Linked DNA regions of Homo sapiens. The protein of the gene in region 1 purifies or fractionates together with the protein of each later gene. This does not show direct contact. Each region holds a gene or a part of one and is shown on either strand. Other genes may lie near its edges. The genes, in order: FAIM, WDR47, THUMPD1 and NAPG.

The links.
Region 2: the proteins of FAIM (region 1) and WDR47 purify together in Homo sapiens (affinity purification with mass spectrometry; one large-scale study listed by BioGRID and IntAct). This does not show direct contact.
Region 3: the proteins of FAIM (region 1) and THUMPD1 fractionate together in Homo sapiens (co-fractionation; one large-scale study listed by BioGRID). This does not show direct contact.
Region 4: the proteins of FAIM (region 1) and NAPG purify together in Homo sapiens (affinity purification with mass spectrometry; one large-scale study listed by BioGRID and IntAct). This does not show direct contact.

Annotation. Positions count from the first base shown.
Region 1 is NC_000003.12:138,607,306-138,611,647, reverse strand, and holds the start of FAIM (fas apoptotic inhibitory molecule 1), read right to left. Parts: upstream 2,878-4,342; 5' UTR 2,711-2,877; intron 2,600-2,710; exon of another isoform or gene 2,502-2,599; intron 1,045-2,501; exon of another isoform or gene 691-1,044; coding exon of another isoform or gene 611-690; intron 1-610. UniProt on the Homo sapiens protein: Plays a role as an inducible effector molecule that mediates Fas resistance produced by surface Ig engagement in B cells.
Region 2 is NC_000001.11:108,972,711-108,976,147, reverse strand, and holds part of WDR47 (WD repeat-containing protein 47), read left to right. Parts: intron 1-1,393; coding exon 1,394-1,612; intron 1,613-3,437.
Region 3 is NC_000016.10:20,732,982-20,736,052, reverse strand, and holds the end of THUMPD1 (THUMP domain-containing protein 1), read left to right. Parts: 3' UTR 1-2,389; downstream 2,390-3,071. UniProt on the Homo sapiens protein: Functions as a tRNA-binding adapter to mediate NAT10-dependent tRNA acetylation modifying cytidine to N4-acetylcytidine (ac4C).
Region 4 is NC_000018.10:10,535,917-10,539,659, forward strand, and holds part of NAPG (gamma-soluble NSF attachment protein), read left to right. Parts: intron 1-3,016; exon of another isoform or gene 3,017-3,055; coding exon of another isoform or gene 3,056-3,058; intron 3,059-3,743. UniProt on the Homo sapiens protein: Required for vesicular transport between the endoplasmic reticulum and the Golgi apparatus.

The DNA.
Region 1 (4,342 bases):
ATGACCCAAACACCTCCCATTAGGCCCCACTTCCCAATACTGCCACACTGGGGATCAAATTTCAACATGAGATTTGGTAAGTACAAATATCCAAACCATAGCACAGAGTTATTGCTTAATGGTTACTGTGTTTCTGTTTAAGGTATTGAAAAGTTTGGCAAATAGATAGTGACAATGATCGCACACTATTGTGAATGTACTTAATGCCCCTGAATTGTACACTAAAAAATTGTTAAAATGGCAAATCTATGTTGTATATATTTTACCACTTCAAAAAGTTAATTATATTAGAAAGAATTGTATACTTTAAATGGGTGAATTTTATGGTATGTGAGTTATATTTCAGTAACGTTGTTAAAAAAAAAAACAAAAAAAGAAAAAAAAATGCAGGTGTCCTGGCTGTAGTGTTTCTTGGGATGCAACTGCACCTGTAACCAAAAGATGATAACATCTGTCCTTGTCCCCAATTTCCACTTCACTCAGAAATATCTGTCACATAGATCTCTAAGTTACAAATTCAATTTAATAAACACATGTCATATTCTAAGTTCATCCAGCATACCAATAGTTATTGGGTACTTATGTACCAGGCTCTGGGCAGGGCACTAACCTCAGAGTGGCAGAGTCCGGAGATACCAAGAGATGATTATAGCACAACAGTGGGAGTGTCCTTATAAAGGGAAGCAGCATAGGATAGAATGGGCCATAGAGGAAGGGTCGTAGCTCTGCCGAAGAAGGCTTTGGTTTAAAACTTTGGAGAAAGTGGCCAGGCGCGATGGCTCACACCCCGTAATCCCAGCACTTTGGGAGGTCAAGGCGGTCGGATCACTTGAGGTCAATAGTTCAAGACCAGCCTGGACAAAACGGTGAAATCCTGTCTTTGCAAAAATAGAAAAATTTGCCGGGCATGGTAGCGCACGTCTGTAAATCCCAGCTACTCCGGAGGCTGAGGCACAAGAATCGCTTGAACCCGGGAGGTGGAGGTTGCAGTGAGCCGAGATCATGCCACTGCACTCCAGCCTGGGTGACAGAGGGAGATTCTGTCTGAAAAATAAAAAAATGAAACTTGGGAGCAAGAAATTAATCCACTGTTGTTTTTAAACTCTTATGCATGTACTTAATTTTCAAGATTCTATGACCAAACTGGAAAATGATAAATACAAAAAACCCTCTATTTTTGCAAATATTTTATTAAAATGTAAATTTAAAAAGATGAAAAACCATATTCCACTTACTTTCACTGATGGAGATGATACCAAGCACTTGAAACTTTTTACATGTCTTTAAAGAAAGCTTTTTGCGTATCTCATACGTACCCATCAATCTTTTAAAATCCCTTCCCTAGCAACCCAACACCTAAGTTTCAGAGCATGACTTAAACACCAACACGTTGCCACTGTTCATCTAATCCACCTGAATTTTGCCTTAACTTAGGTTTATTCTTACTGGGGACTGAAATGGTTCGTTCAAGATAAACCGAAGTCAGTTTAAAAATTACTAGATGATAGTAGTTACTAAGATGCTCATGGTTCCCTTTTCAGCAAAGGCCCCCAGGTAGGGCCAGCCAATAATGCAAGTCACACTCAAGTGTTGACATCTTCATCTCCGGGCCGGCCCCTTATGAAGTGAGGGGGGTCTCCAGTAAAATCACTCAGGAAGCTCCTCGAGCCAAGTATTCCCAAATGCTACTTACTGGAGGTACAAAAAGGAGAATAACTTTTCTGAGGGCCATTTCACAATCTATACCAGAAGCCTTGTGGTATAGACCGTGGATTCTATCTTGTTTTAGAACGAATCTTGTGCGATTCTTTCTACAGAAATGATCACGCTCAAAAACCCAGATACAACGATGCTCAATGAATTACTTTTTGCAATAACTAAAAACTGAAAACCACTTGTACGCTCACCATCAGGGAGAAACTACATTTAGTAAATCACAGTCCAAAGCCATGCCAAGAGTCAGGGATGGATGAGGTAGTCAACCTGACACACAGGAATGTACAGTCGAGAGAGAGAGAGAGAGAGAGAGAGAGTCGAGAGAGAGAGAGAGAGAGTCGAGAGAGAGAGAGTCGAGAGAGAGAGAGAGAGAGAGAGAGAGAGAGAGAGAGAGAGAGTTTCAGCACTTTATGATGCAGGTTCTGCAAAAACAAGCCCCGCTCATGTTACAAGGAAAAACCATCTGGAAGAATATACACCCTCATGTTAACGCAGCTTGTCTCTGGGGAGCAGCGGCACGGCTGCTTTGCTTGCTTCCTTGCTTTCTGTTCCACGTTTTCGACAGTGAGAAGTATTATCTTTAGAGGTCGCGAACAGGCCGGAGGAGGGTGCGGCAGGTCGCGGGGCAGGGCCTCGCTAGGCAGGGACGCCCCCGCACCGCCCCGGGCTGGCCCCGCGCCCCGCGCCCCGCCGCACCTCCACCTTTGCCGGCGGTGAGCGGGAGCCGCGTCCCGCCCCGAGGTCTGGGATCACCGGCGGGCCGGCTGGAAGCGTCCGGAACTCACCCAGCGTCTCACCCGCGCGGGTCTCACCGACCGCGCAAACACCGCCCGCCGCCGCCGCCCAGAGATGGCCGCCGCCGGCGCAGCAGGGCCGAGAGCGTGGGGACGCCGGGGGGCTGAGTGCAGGGGTTTCCAGGGTGCGGAGCGGGCGGGCCCGAGGCGTCCGGGCGGGCGCAGGCGCGACACCGACCCCACCCGGTCTGCTGCCTCACCTGTGCTCTGTGGGCCGCGGGAGGCTCTGGGGTAGGTTTCACCAAACAACCGGTTGGTTCCGACTCGGCTGCGTAGGCCGCGTGGCCTTGCTCCCCTGGCCGAGAAACAGGCGCAGCCGGCGCGGAGGTTGAAAGCTCTGCAGGCGCGAGTACCAAACGCGCCGACTGTTTGTCGCGCCTCTCAGGTCCCCTGGGGCGACCAGCGCAGGAGGCCACCCCTCCCGCCGCCACGGACCCAACCCTGGTCCTCTGCCTTAGCCGAAGGCCGCACCCTCCGCGCATAGGCCTTCCTCAGCCCCAACCCAGGACATCACCATGTCCCGCAGTGCGTCCAGTCTTCCTGCCAGCAAGTGTGGGTAGGAGCCGGCCGCTGGCCCCGCTCTGGGCTAGACGGTGGGGACATACTGGCGGGCAAAAACAGCCCTGTGCCTGCTCTGCAGCTATGGGGAAGGAATATCTGTTCATGGCAGCAATAGCATTCGCTCCTTAAAACCTCTTTATGAGTCTCATTCCTTTTTTAAAGACCCAAACTACTTAAGGTGGGCATGAAGCCCCCATGTGTGATCTAGCCTCTGCCTGCTTGGCTTCATTTAGGTCCTTAAAGGATGCAGGTTTCTTCTCGCCCAGGGCCTCTGCAAATGCTCTTCTCTCTGCCTGGACACTCCTCACCTCTTCCCTATTGTGAGAGTTCTTCATATATCATTTCTTAGATTACACTATCCTGGCCCATAAGACTTGCAGCATTGCTGGGTGTGGTGGCTCATACCTGTAATCACGGCATTTTGGGAGGCAGAGTGGCGGATCTCTTGAGTCCAGGAGTTCAAGACCAGCCTGGGCAACATGGTAAAAAAAAAAAAAAAGAGAGAGAGAGAATGAGAAAGAAGAAAAGAAAATAATTAGCGGCTCAGGCCTGTAATCCTAGCTACTTGGGACGCTGAGGTGGGAGAATTGCTTGGGCCCTGAAGGGAGGTAGAGGCTGCAGAGAGCTGTGATTGCACCACTACACTCCAGCCTGGGCAACAGAGCGAGACCCTGTTTCATTAAAAAAAACACACACAAAAAGAAACAGCCGGGCTCAGTGGCTCACGCCTGTAATCCCAGCACTTTGGGATGCTGAGGCAGGCATGGCAAAACCCCGTCACTACTGAAAATATAAAACTTAGAGGGGCGTGGTGGTGCATGCCTGTAGTCCCAACTACTTGGGAGGCTGAGGCAGGAGAATCGCTTCAACCTGGGAGGTGGAGGTTGGAGTGAGCTGAGATTGAGCCACTGCACTCCAGCCTGGGCGAAGAGCAAGACTCTGTCTCAAAAAAAAAAAAAAAAAAAAACAGCCGGGCACAGTGGCTTACACCTGTAATCCCAGCACTCTGGGAGGCCAGGTGCGGATTGCCTGAGGTCAGAAGTTTGAGACCAGCCTGGCCAACGTGGTGAAACCCTAGCTCTACTAAAAATACAAAAATTAGCCGGGCGTGGTGGCATGCGTCTGTAATCCCAGCTACTCAGGAGGCTGAGGCAGGAGAATCACTTGACCTTGGGAGGTGGCAGTTGCAGCGAACTGAGATCGCCTCACTGTACTGCAGCCTGAGCCACAGAGTGATACTTCGTCTCAAAAACAAAAACAAAAAAAACACA
Region 2 (3,437 bases), on another chromosome or scaffold:
AGATTACTCAAAGTACTGCTCGAATCATGTAATTCTCTTGCTTAGAAACCTACAATGATGCTTTACTGTTTACAGAGACAAGTTCAAAACTCTGCAGTTTGAGATTTAGGCGCTTGACGGCCTGGCCCTAACCTACCTTTTGCATTTCAGTTTCAAGCTGCCTTTCAAGTTAACTTTTATCTCCAGCCAAACTGATCTACCTTCCTGTAAGCTGTTTTATACTTTTCCTCTAAACCTTTTCTCATGTAATTCTTCCTGATCGTAATAGCCCTCTTCTCTTTCAGTATTTCAAGAAAAGATTATTCTTTATTACATACAAATGTATGTGTTCGCCTGTGTATACATACATACATACTCTTATTTATGCTGTTTATTGTTTTTCAAGGTCTAACTTGTGTCCCATTTTTTTATGAAGTCTTCCTAGACCACTTTGGTCTAGAGCAGTGTTATTCAAACTTTTTTTTTTTTAATTTATTTTTTTGAGACAGGGTCTCACTCTGTCTCAAAAAAATTTATTATTTTTTTTTGAGATGGAGTCTCGCTCTGTCGCCCAGGTTGGAGTGCAGTGGCGCAATCTCAGCTCACTGCAACCTCCGCCTCCCAGGTTGAAGCGATTCTCCTGCCTCAGCATCGTGAGTAGCTGGGATTACAGGCACGTGCCACTCCGTTCGGCTAACTTTTGTATTTTTAGTAGAGATGGGGTTTCACCATGTTGGCCAGGCTGGTCTCGATCTCCTGACCTTGTGAGCCACCTGCCTCGGTCTCCCAAAGTGCTGGATTACAGGCATGAGCCACCGCGCCCAGCCTGTATAATTAATTAACAAAATAATTATTAATTATAATAATTTATAAAATAAAATTATTTATTTTATTTCTGGGAGACAAGGATTCAAGTTGCCCTGAATATATGCCCCCAAGAGCTTATTTTCTGTTCACAGTTCCTATTGGCAGTAATCTTGTGTTGCTTTAGTACATTTCCTATACTGTTGTCCTAAAATACATTTTGTTACTGAATTTCTTGTCTCTTTAACTACACTCTTAGCTGGGTATAGGAGCATTTCTAGATACTTCCAGTAGTGAAAACACTGGATTGAGAAAAGTGGTTTCTGTAGCATGGCTCATCTATTGCACTATAGGTGATGCTGTTGCACACAGTTCTCTCAAATGACAAAAAATGGACTTTCTCATTTCTTACAAAATTTTGTTTAGGCCTTGGGCCTTAAAAGGACACAACTGTTTATTGGTTAACTGTTAATTTGGATTTTTTCATCGCTGAATAGTATTGATAAACTACATTAAATCTTTAGTATATGGTTCAATGGACATAATCAGCTGTGTTGCCATTTGGGTATATTGATTTTCTGTATTTAAACTTTCATTCCTACCACTACAGGCAGTGCAGTGGCATCTGTAGCTGTAGATCCCAGTGGTCGTCTCTTAGCCACAGGTCAAGAAGATTCTAGCTGCATGTTGTATGACATAAGAGGAGGAAGAATGGTACAAAGTTATCATCCTCATTCCAGTGATGTTCGCTCTGTTCGATTCTCCCCTGGAGCTCACTACTTGCTAACAGGCTCTTATGATATGAAAATAAAGGTGACAGACCTACAAGGTGATTGAGATCGACTTCTCTGTTTTTAGTCTTTCCTGTTCTATTTGGGACCTTTATTTTTTTGTTAATGTGATGTGGTTGATTATATAATACTTTCAATTATTTTATAGTATTTATTGAGCAGATTCTGAGACTATATTAAGATATATAATAGCAAATTATTAAATAAGCAGTGAATAGTCTTATTGTTAGGTTTTGTTTTTGTTTTTATAGAGGCAGGGGCTCACTATGTTGCCCAGGCTGGTCTCGAACTCCTGGGCTCAAGTGATCCATCCGCCTTCGTCTCCCAAAGTGCTGGGATTACAGGCGTGAGCCACCACGCCCAGCCTGTTTTTGTTTTTGAGACAGGGTCTCGCTCTGTCGCCCAGGCTGGAGTGCAGTGGTGTGATCTTAGCTCACTGTATCCTCTTATCTCCCCTGCTCAAGTGATCCTCCCACCTCAGCCCTGCAAGTAGCTAGGACTACAGGTGCATGCCACCTCACCTGGCTAATATTTGTATCTTCTGTAGAGACAAAATTTTGCCATGTTGCGCAGGCTGGTCTCAAACTTCTGAGCTCAAGCGATCTGCCTGCATTGGCCTCCCAGAGTGCTGGGATTATAGGCGTGAGCCATCATGCCCAACCTTATTGTTAGTTTTTGATTTTTTTTTTTTGAGGCAGGGTCTCACTCTTTCACCCAGGCTGGAGTGCAGTGGCACGATTATTGCTCACTACACCCTTGACCTCCTGGGTTCAAGCCATCCTTCTGCCTCAGCCTCCGAATAGCTGGAACTACATCTGTGCACCACCATGGATGGCACATTTTAAAAATTTTTTTGTAAAGATGGGATCTTGCCATGTTGCCCAGGCTGGTTTTGAATTCCAGGCCTCAAGTGATCCTCCTGCCTCCGCTTAAGATATTTTTTAAAATCAACATTTATTTATAGTGACTCATTCTGAGATAAATGATGGATTTGTGTACTGTTATTAGCTTCTACATTAAAAAATCATTAGCATACAATCTTTGTAATTAGGTCTTAGTATCTAGTTTTAGTTTTAAACATTCATCAAGCAAATATTTATTGTATATCAATTAGGGACTGACAGATGAGAATAAGACAGTTAATTCCCTCCCTGATGGAGCTTATATTTTAGAGGTCAATAAAAAGTAAACCAATAAACAATGTAATTTTAGGTATTTGTGCTGTTTAAAAAATTAGTATGGTAGGGAGATAGTGACTAGGGTGAATAGGGGAAGGCTATTTATTTATTTATTTTGAGACAGAGTCTTGTTCTGTTGCCCAGGCTGGAGTGCAGTGGTGCATCTTGGCTCACTGCAGGGGGAAGGCTATTTTAAATAGGATAATTGGAGTAGGTCTCTCCAAGGAAATGCCATTTGCATAGAGACCAGAATGATGAGGAGGAACAAGCCAGGCCAGGATATTAGGAGAAGAGCACAGCAAGTATAAAGATGCTGAAGTAGGAACCAGCTTAGCACGTTCATGACACTACAGGAAGCCAATGTGCCTGGAACTTAGTGAACTAAGAGAGAGAGACACAGAAGAATAAATCAGAGGCAGGGTTTTATAGACTTTTTTTTTTTTTTTTTCTGAGACAGAGTCTCGCTCTGTCGCCCAGGCTGGAGCGCAGTGGTGCAATGTCGGCTCACTGCAAGCTCCACCTCCCAGTTCATGCCATTCTCCTGCCTCAGCCTCCCAAGTAGCTGGAACTACAGGCGCCCGCCACCACACCTGGCTAATTTTTTGTATTTTTAGTAGAGACAGAGTTTCACCATGTTAGCCTTGATCTTGATGGTCTTGATCTCCTGACCTCGTGATCTGCCTGC
Region 3 (3,071 bases), on another chromosome or scaffold:
ATTCATTATTTTCAAATGGCTTTTGGACTATCAAAAACAGTAAGGCTTTTGTTCAGAAATCACCTTTAGTCAAAAGGTTTAAGAAGCAAATTATTTAGTAGCAGAACTTATCTCAGGAAAGGAAAATATGCATGGTTGGTGAGAATCTAATAACATTAAAATGCTGGGGCAAGATGCAGTACAAAGTTGAAGAGACTTTATTCTCAATAAGTTGATTTACTGATGATATGTCATATGATGCAAAAAAGGTTTTGTGTCATTAACTGAAAAGTAGCAGCTTCTCTATCCAGGATGATGAGTCAACAGGTTTCACTAATATTTGTCATGCTGTAGCATTTGTAAGATTTGTAAATGATGAAATTCAAAGAAAACTTTTTCTATTGCTAGGAGCCTGCCAGAACAAAGGCCAATATATAATGTTGTGACATCATATCTGATAACCAGAGGTCTGGTATCTACACTCCTGGTGCCCCATCAGTGGTTGTCTCCATAAGTCATTTTGCGTTATTAAAAAAAAAAAAAGAAATCCTGATGTTGACATTATAGCACACTGCTTTCTCCACAGAGATGCTGATATCAAAAACTTGAAGATACAGTGAAGTTCTGAATAATGTTACAAAACTGGTTACCTGTATCAAAGACCCATTTATGCAAAAATGTTAAAAAAAAAAAAAAACACCCAAAACAAAAACCTGGACAGACAGCACATAAACCTCCTGCACCATACAGACATCCAGTGGCTTCTCAGAGGAAGCGTTCTCTACAGGATATTTGAATTGAAAGGTGAATTGCCAGAGTACTTACAATAAAACAGCCAGCTTTTGCTGAGTGCTTTGGAAATGAAAAATGACTACAGAAAGTAGCCTATTTTGCAGACGTTTTTCATCACATGAACAAATGGACAAGTCTCTGAAAGGTTCTGGGGAAAAAAATTTTTCTTAAAGCGACAAGACTCTTAGATCTAAAAGGAAACTGACTTGCCACCTTGCCAGAGGAATTCTTGAAATGTTTCTGCAGCCACTTGGCCTTGAAAATAAAGGGTGCAACTCTCAAATCTTGTTCTAACCCGGCTGGAGGAACCACAAGACCCAATGAAATAGCATTTTCTCTCCTTTTCCCAGCACTAGTATATAACCTATGAGGAACCCTTGTCTCTGAATCTGCTCAGCTTGAAATTTTGTCTCTGAAGGAAGAGAATGAACTCAGCCCTAGTCTGACAGTCCTAGATTTCTGTGAAATAAGAGTATTCTTCAACTTAGTGCTCACACTCACATACCATGAGGGTTCTCTGCAGGGGTTTAGGGGTTTCCTGAATTTGAAAGTTTTTTCAAGGCCTCTTTTTGGGTAAAACAATTGAAAAGGCAGACACCAACAAAGTCTGCAAAATTAACTGTCCAGATTAAGAATATTAAGGAGCTGTAAAATTAGCTTGTAGAAATGGACTTATCCTTAAGTTTTAAAAAGTTAGGAAATCCTAAAAATGTTAGGCTTCCTGCACAAGTGGCTATGTTCATTTAATGGCTAGTGAACATGGGAATGTATTTTTATCCTCCTAGCTGGTGGTTCTGTTTGGTAAACCAGACTAGAATGATTTGAGAGGGGCAAAGAGAATAGGCAGGACCTTCCTTCTATAGCTTTACATATTTAGAATGTTAATACTTAATGACATTGAAGTTACCTTGCAATGATTGATAAGAGGATTATTAATATCAGTTAGGGGAATAGGGAGGATAGGATTTTGGTGCCTTCTTCAGCAGACTTGCTCCAAGACAAAGATTCTATTTTGATAGTGCAAGACAAAAGGACTCGGAAGAAAATTGGCCATATGCCTACAGAGCATACAACTCTGTGGAACTAAATTGTTTTTACTTTGTGAAAGCTGCTATTTTACGGAAAGATTTTGATTATACAGTTTGTTTTTAAATTGTCTTTTATATTTATTTGTATTTGGTAAGAATCGGTTGTTACACAAGCTGTTCTTTCCCAGTTACAAAATCCTGTGTTCGGTTGTAACCTGAACTCATTAAAAGACTTGTTTTCAGGTTTATCAACTGTTTATTTTCACTGACATTTGAGCATGTTATTTTATAAATGACGGGATTCCAGGGTAGGAAGTGCTTTTTATTCCCCTTTTGTTTTTTCTTTTAAAAAATTACGTCAGTTAAAAAAATAAAAAAACTGCAGTCTTATGGTTTAGAAAACTTGTTTAGCTCCATAGAGGAAAGAATGTTAAACTTTGTATTTTAAAACATGATTCTCTGAGGTTAAACTTGGTTTTCAAATGTTATTTTTACTTGTATTTTGCTTTTGGTACGGCCAGAAATCGAGCTTGTTTTTTCATAGTTCCTGATATTTTCAGAAAAATCAAAATAAATTTGTTCCCTAAAAATTGGTGTTCTAATATTTTTTCTTTCTTTCTGACTCTTAGTAAATCTCTTGCTTTATAGTATATATATATCATAAAATATGTTTATATGTCAAATTATAAAATGCCATGGACATGAGCCTAAAAAACATTAAAAAATTATTACCCTTGAATAATTAATACTTCTAAATCCAAGTTTCAGATATTTTACAGTTAATTTGCTTCAAAATGAGCCATAGTAATACAGTACTTACTTTCATTAAATTCACTTACTGATTTTTGAATTATTTATACTCATTTTAACAGTATTTTAATATATTGAAGTTTGGTCTCATAAAGTTGTTAAGTAGAAGAAATTGTCTTGAACATTTAGGATATATCTTTATTTTGAATTAATCAGGCACAAGATAGATGAAATACAGATTCATTGTGCACTTTCTTTTTCTAAGTAATCATTTGACTCCTGCAATTTTAAACACTAGAAACCATCATTACCTTTGTCAGTTTGGTTATTGAAACAATTTTCATCCATATATTTTTAGACTTTTATTTACTTTTTAATTTTTTAGCTAAGTAGAAAACAAAAACTTAAACCAGGAAGGATCTTAAACATTTTAAGAGAGTAGTCACTGAATTATCAGGAACAAATCGAGAAAGCAATCATATTACTACTTAACCCTTCAGCTTTTTTATCAAGCTATGTTCG
Region 4 (3,743 bases), on another chromosome or scaffold:
AAACCATAGAGTTTCTCTTACGGCCAAAGAAGCTGGGGATCTGCTCTGGTCTTCTTATGTCTCATTTTCCTCTGAGAATTAGGAAGCTCCCAGGTGGCTGTTACATTCTTAGTGTACTTCATGCCTGTTTAAGAAATGCTCAAACACTCTAATTCTCACAGCCTCAGTTTATATTACAACAGCTGTACTAAGACTTGAATCTTCATCAAAAGTTATTATTCAGGCATCATTTCCATTGCTCAAGTATCTATTTAATTTGAGGGTTGGAAAGGCACTACTTTGAATGAAAGAAAATTAACTTAGTGGATAGGGAAACAGATGAAGGAAAATGCTTTCTGGCATTGTCTTATATTTAAATTAAATGCCTTTGGACACTGTTGGGAGCACAGGACCCCTGAGCTACGTGGTCCACAATTCTGTGGGCTAAAATTTCTACCAATTTGTCATACAAACCTTCACACTGATTCACCAGAAAGGCTTGGGGAGTGCCATTTTGTAGACATATGCACAAGGGAAGCCACAGAAACTTGTTGGATCAACCTTTGGTTCTGTCACTTGATGACTGCTGTGATTTCATATCCTGTTTGCTCCACTGGCACACAGCCATTGAAAATAGGCATATTTATGGTGGAGGGTATAACTTTCAAGTAGGCAGCTCATCATTTTTTATGGAGAAGTATCAATATTGTGGTTGGACCTCTTACTCACAGCCTCACTTGATTTTACGCAAAAACAGGAAGATGTAGTTGCTAATTTTTAAACAACAAATAGGACTCGGATGCCATTTTTACTGCCTTCTAATGTATTTTTTGCTCTATCTACTGGGTAAAACTCATGACGAATAGTTCCTGTGGTTTTTTTATCCTCCCAAATGCTTTTATGTTGTAGATTCACATTATATATGTAATTAGTGGGTAGGTATATTTGGGGAGGAAATACAGTTGACCCTTGAACTACCCAAGGGTTGGGATGCCAACCCCTTGTGCAGTTGAAACTCTACATATAACTTTTTACTCCCCAAAAACTTTACTAATAGCCTGTTTTTGTTTTTTTTTTTTGAGACAGGATCTTGCTCTGTTGCCCAGGCTGGATTGCAGTGGCACAATCATGGCTTACTGCAGCCTCAACCTCCTGGGCTCAGGCGATCCTCCCACCTCAGCCTCCTGAGTAGCTGGGACTATAGGTGCATGTCACCATGCCCTGCTAATTTTTTAATTTTTTTGGTAGAGACTGGTTCTCGCTGTTTTTCCCAGGCTGGGCTCAAACTCCTGGGCTCAAGTGATACTTCTGCCTCAACCTCCCAAAGTGCTGGGATTATAGGCGTGAGCCACTACCCTACTACTGACTGGAAGTCTTATAAATAATATAAACAGTCAGTTAGTACATATGTTGTATGTTGTATGGAATATGTTTTATACTGTATTCTTAGAATAAAGCTAGAGAAAAGAAAATATTAAGAAAATCGTAAGGAAGAGAAAATATATTTAGTGTTCTTTAAGTGGAAGTAGAGCATCATAGGGCTCTTCATCCTCATCATAGTCTTCACGTTTGGGCTGAGGAGGAGGAAGAGGAGGAGGAGGAAGAAGAGGGGTTGGTTTTGCTGTCTCAGGTGGCAGAGGAGCAAGACAGTCTGCGTATAATTGGACCAGCACAGTTTAAATCTCTGCTGTTCAAGGTTCAGTTGTATTCTTTAAAAGCCAAAATGACCCTCAGGACTAATGTGTCTGAGAGAGATTTTGTTAGGTTTACCTCCCCTGTTCATTCAGATATTTTTCAGCAGATATTGTAGACTCGGATTCTTTCATTGACTTTTGGTTTTATAACAAAAAAAGTATTGTTTTTATTTTTTCACTGAGGTTTGGAAATGCATTAGCATTTCATTCTGCTTGAGTGAATGATAGCAGTCTTATTTCATACAGTGTCTTTCAGTCTGTGTTATTGTTAGTTTCCATAGCTAAATAATAAAGTTATGTTTTGGGGTTGGCGAAAATGAGACCAGTTTTGTTAAGGGTATCCTAATGAATTTGTCAACTTAGCAAGGGACTGAATAGGCAGATTTGTAAACCACCCATGAGATGTCAGTGTGGAGCCTACCTTAAGATACAGCAAGTCAACACTAAATAAGTTGCTTATGTAAACTTTATAACTAGCTTTTAAACGGTGTTTTTTTTTAAGTTTATTTTTAAAATGTTTGATTTGGAGATATTAGACATTAGGACTGCATGATCCTGAGATGTGTAGATTAATAGTAAGATACAGAATTTATTAGTCATGGAAGAGGGTTGCAAACTCAGATGAACTCAGGGTGTAGAGGAATAACTAAAATGAATGAGCAGCTGGGACGTGGAGGGCATTTGGAAGTGAAGAGCGGGGAGAAGCGCCAGGAGGTGCATGCTCATGTGGCGGGACAGTGCTGCCCAGCCCCAGCCTGTTGCCATACAGGGATGCAAGCCTGCTGATGCCGTAGCTTTTGATATTTTTTTGAAGAAAGCCATAAAACAATTTTCATGAAAGTATCTAATTTAAAAATACTGCATGGATCAAGCAAAACACACTTGGAAGTGAGATAGAGTCATTGGGCTGCCAGTTTGTGATCCTTGGCATAGGTCTTGTATGTAGTAGGGACTTGGTAAATGTTTAAAGAATAAGAAGTGCTTAGAAAACAGTAAAGAGCAAGGTTTTTGGTTTTTTCTATTTTCATAGATTTCCCAAAGGTCTGTGAAGTGATGATGAACTCTGTGTAGAAATTACCTGGTACCTTTTTGATTGGGTTTAATGAAGCTTGATTGGGAGAGTAATCATGTGAAGCATTTCATTTTAAATATCTTTATTGCTATACAATGTATTTGAGTCATTTACTTTCATGAATTAGGGATAAAATAATTGTATTTCATATCCTTTGCCCACTTTTTGATTGGGTTTTTTTTTTCTTGTAAATTTAAGTTCCTTGTAGAAAAAGAAGACATACAGCCAAGAAACATGAAAAACAGCTCATCATCATTGATCATTAGAGAAATGCAAATCAAAACCACAATGAGATCTCACGCCAGTCAGAATGGTGATGATTAAGAAGTCAGGAAACAATAGATGCTGGCCAGGCTGTGGAGAAATAGGAAAGTTTTTATACTGTTGGTGGGAGTGTAAATTAGTTCAACCGTTGTGGAAGACAGTGTGGGGATTCCTCAAGGATCTAGAACCAGAAATACCATTTGACCCAGCAATCCCATTACTGGGCATATGCCCAAAGGAACATAAATCATTCTATAGAAACGTATGTTTATACAGTAAACACGTATGTTTATTGTAGCACCATTTACAATAGCAAAGACATGGAACCAACCCAAATGCCCATCAGTGATAGACTGGATAAAGAAAATGTGGTACATATACACCATGGAATACTATGCAGCTGTAAAAAAGAATGAGATCATGTCCTTTGCAGGGACATGGATGAAGCTGGAAGCCATCATTCTTGGCAAACTAACAAACACAGGAACAGAAAACCAAACACCGCATGTTCTCACTCATACGTGGGAATTGAACCACAAGGACACATGGACACAGGGAGGGGAACATCACACTCCTGGGCCTGTCGGGGGCTGGGGAATAAGGGGAGGGAGAGCACTAGGACAAATACCTAATGCATGCGGGGCTTAAAACCTAGATGATGGGTTGATAGGTATAGCAAACCACCATGGGACATGTATACCTATGTAACAAACCTGCACATTCTGCACATGTGT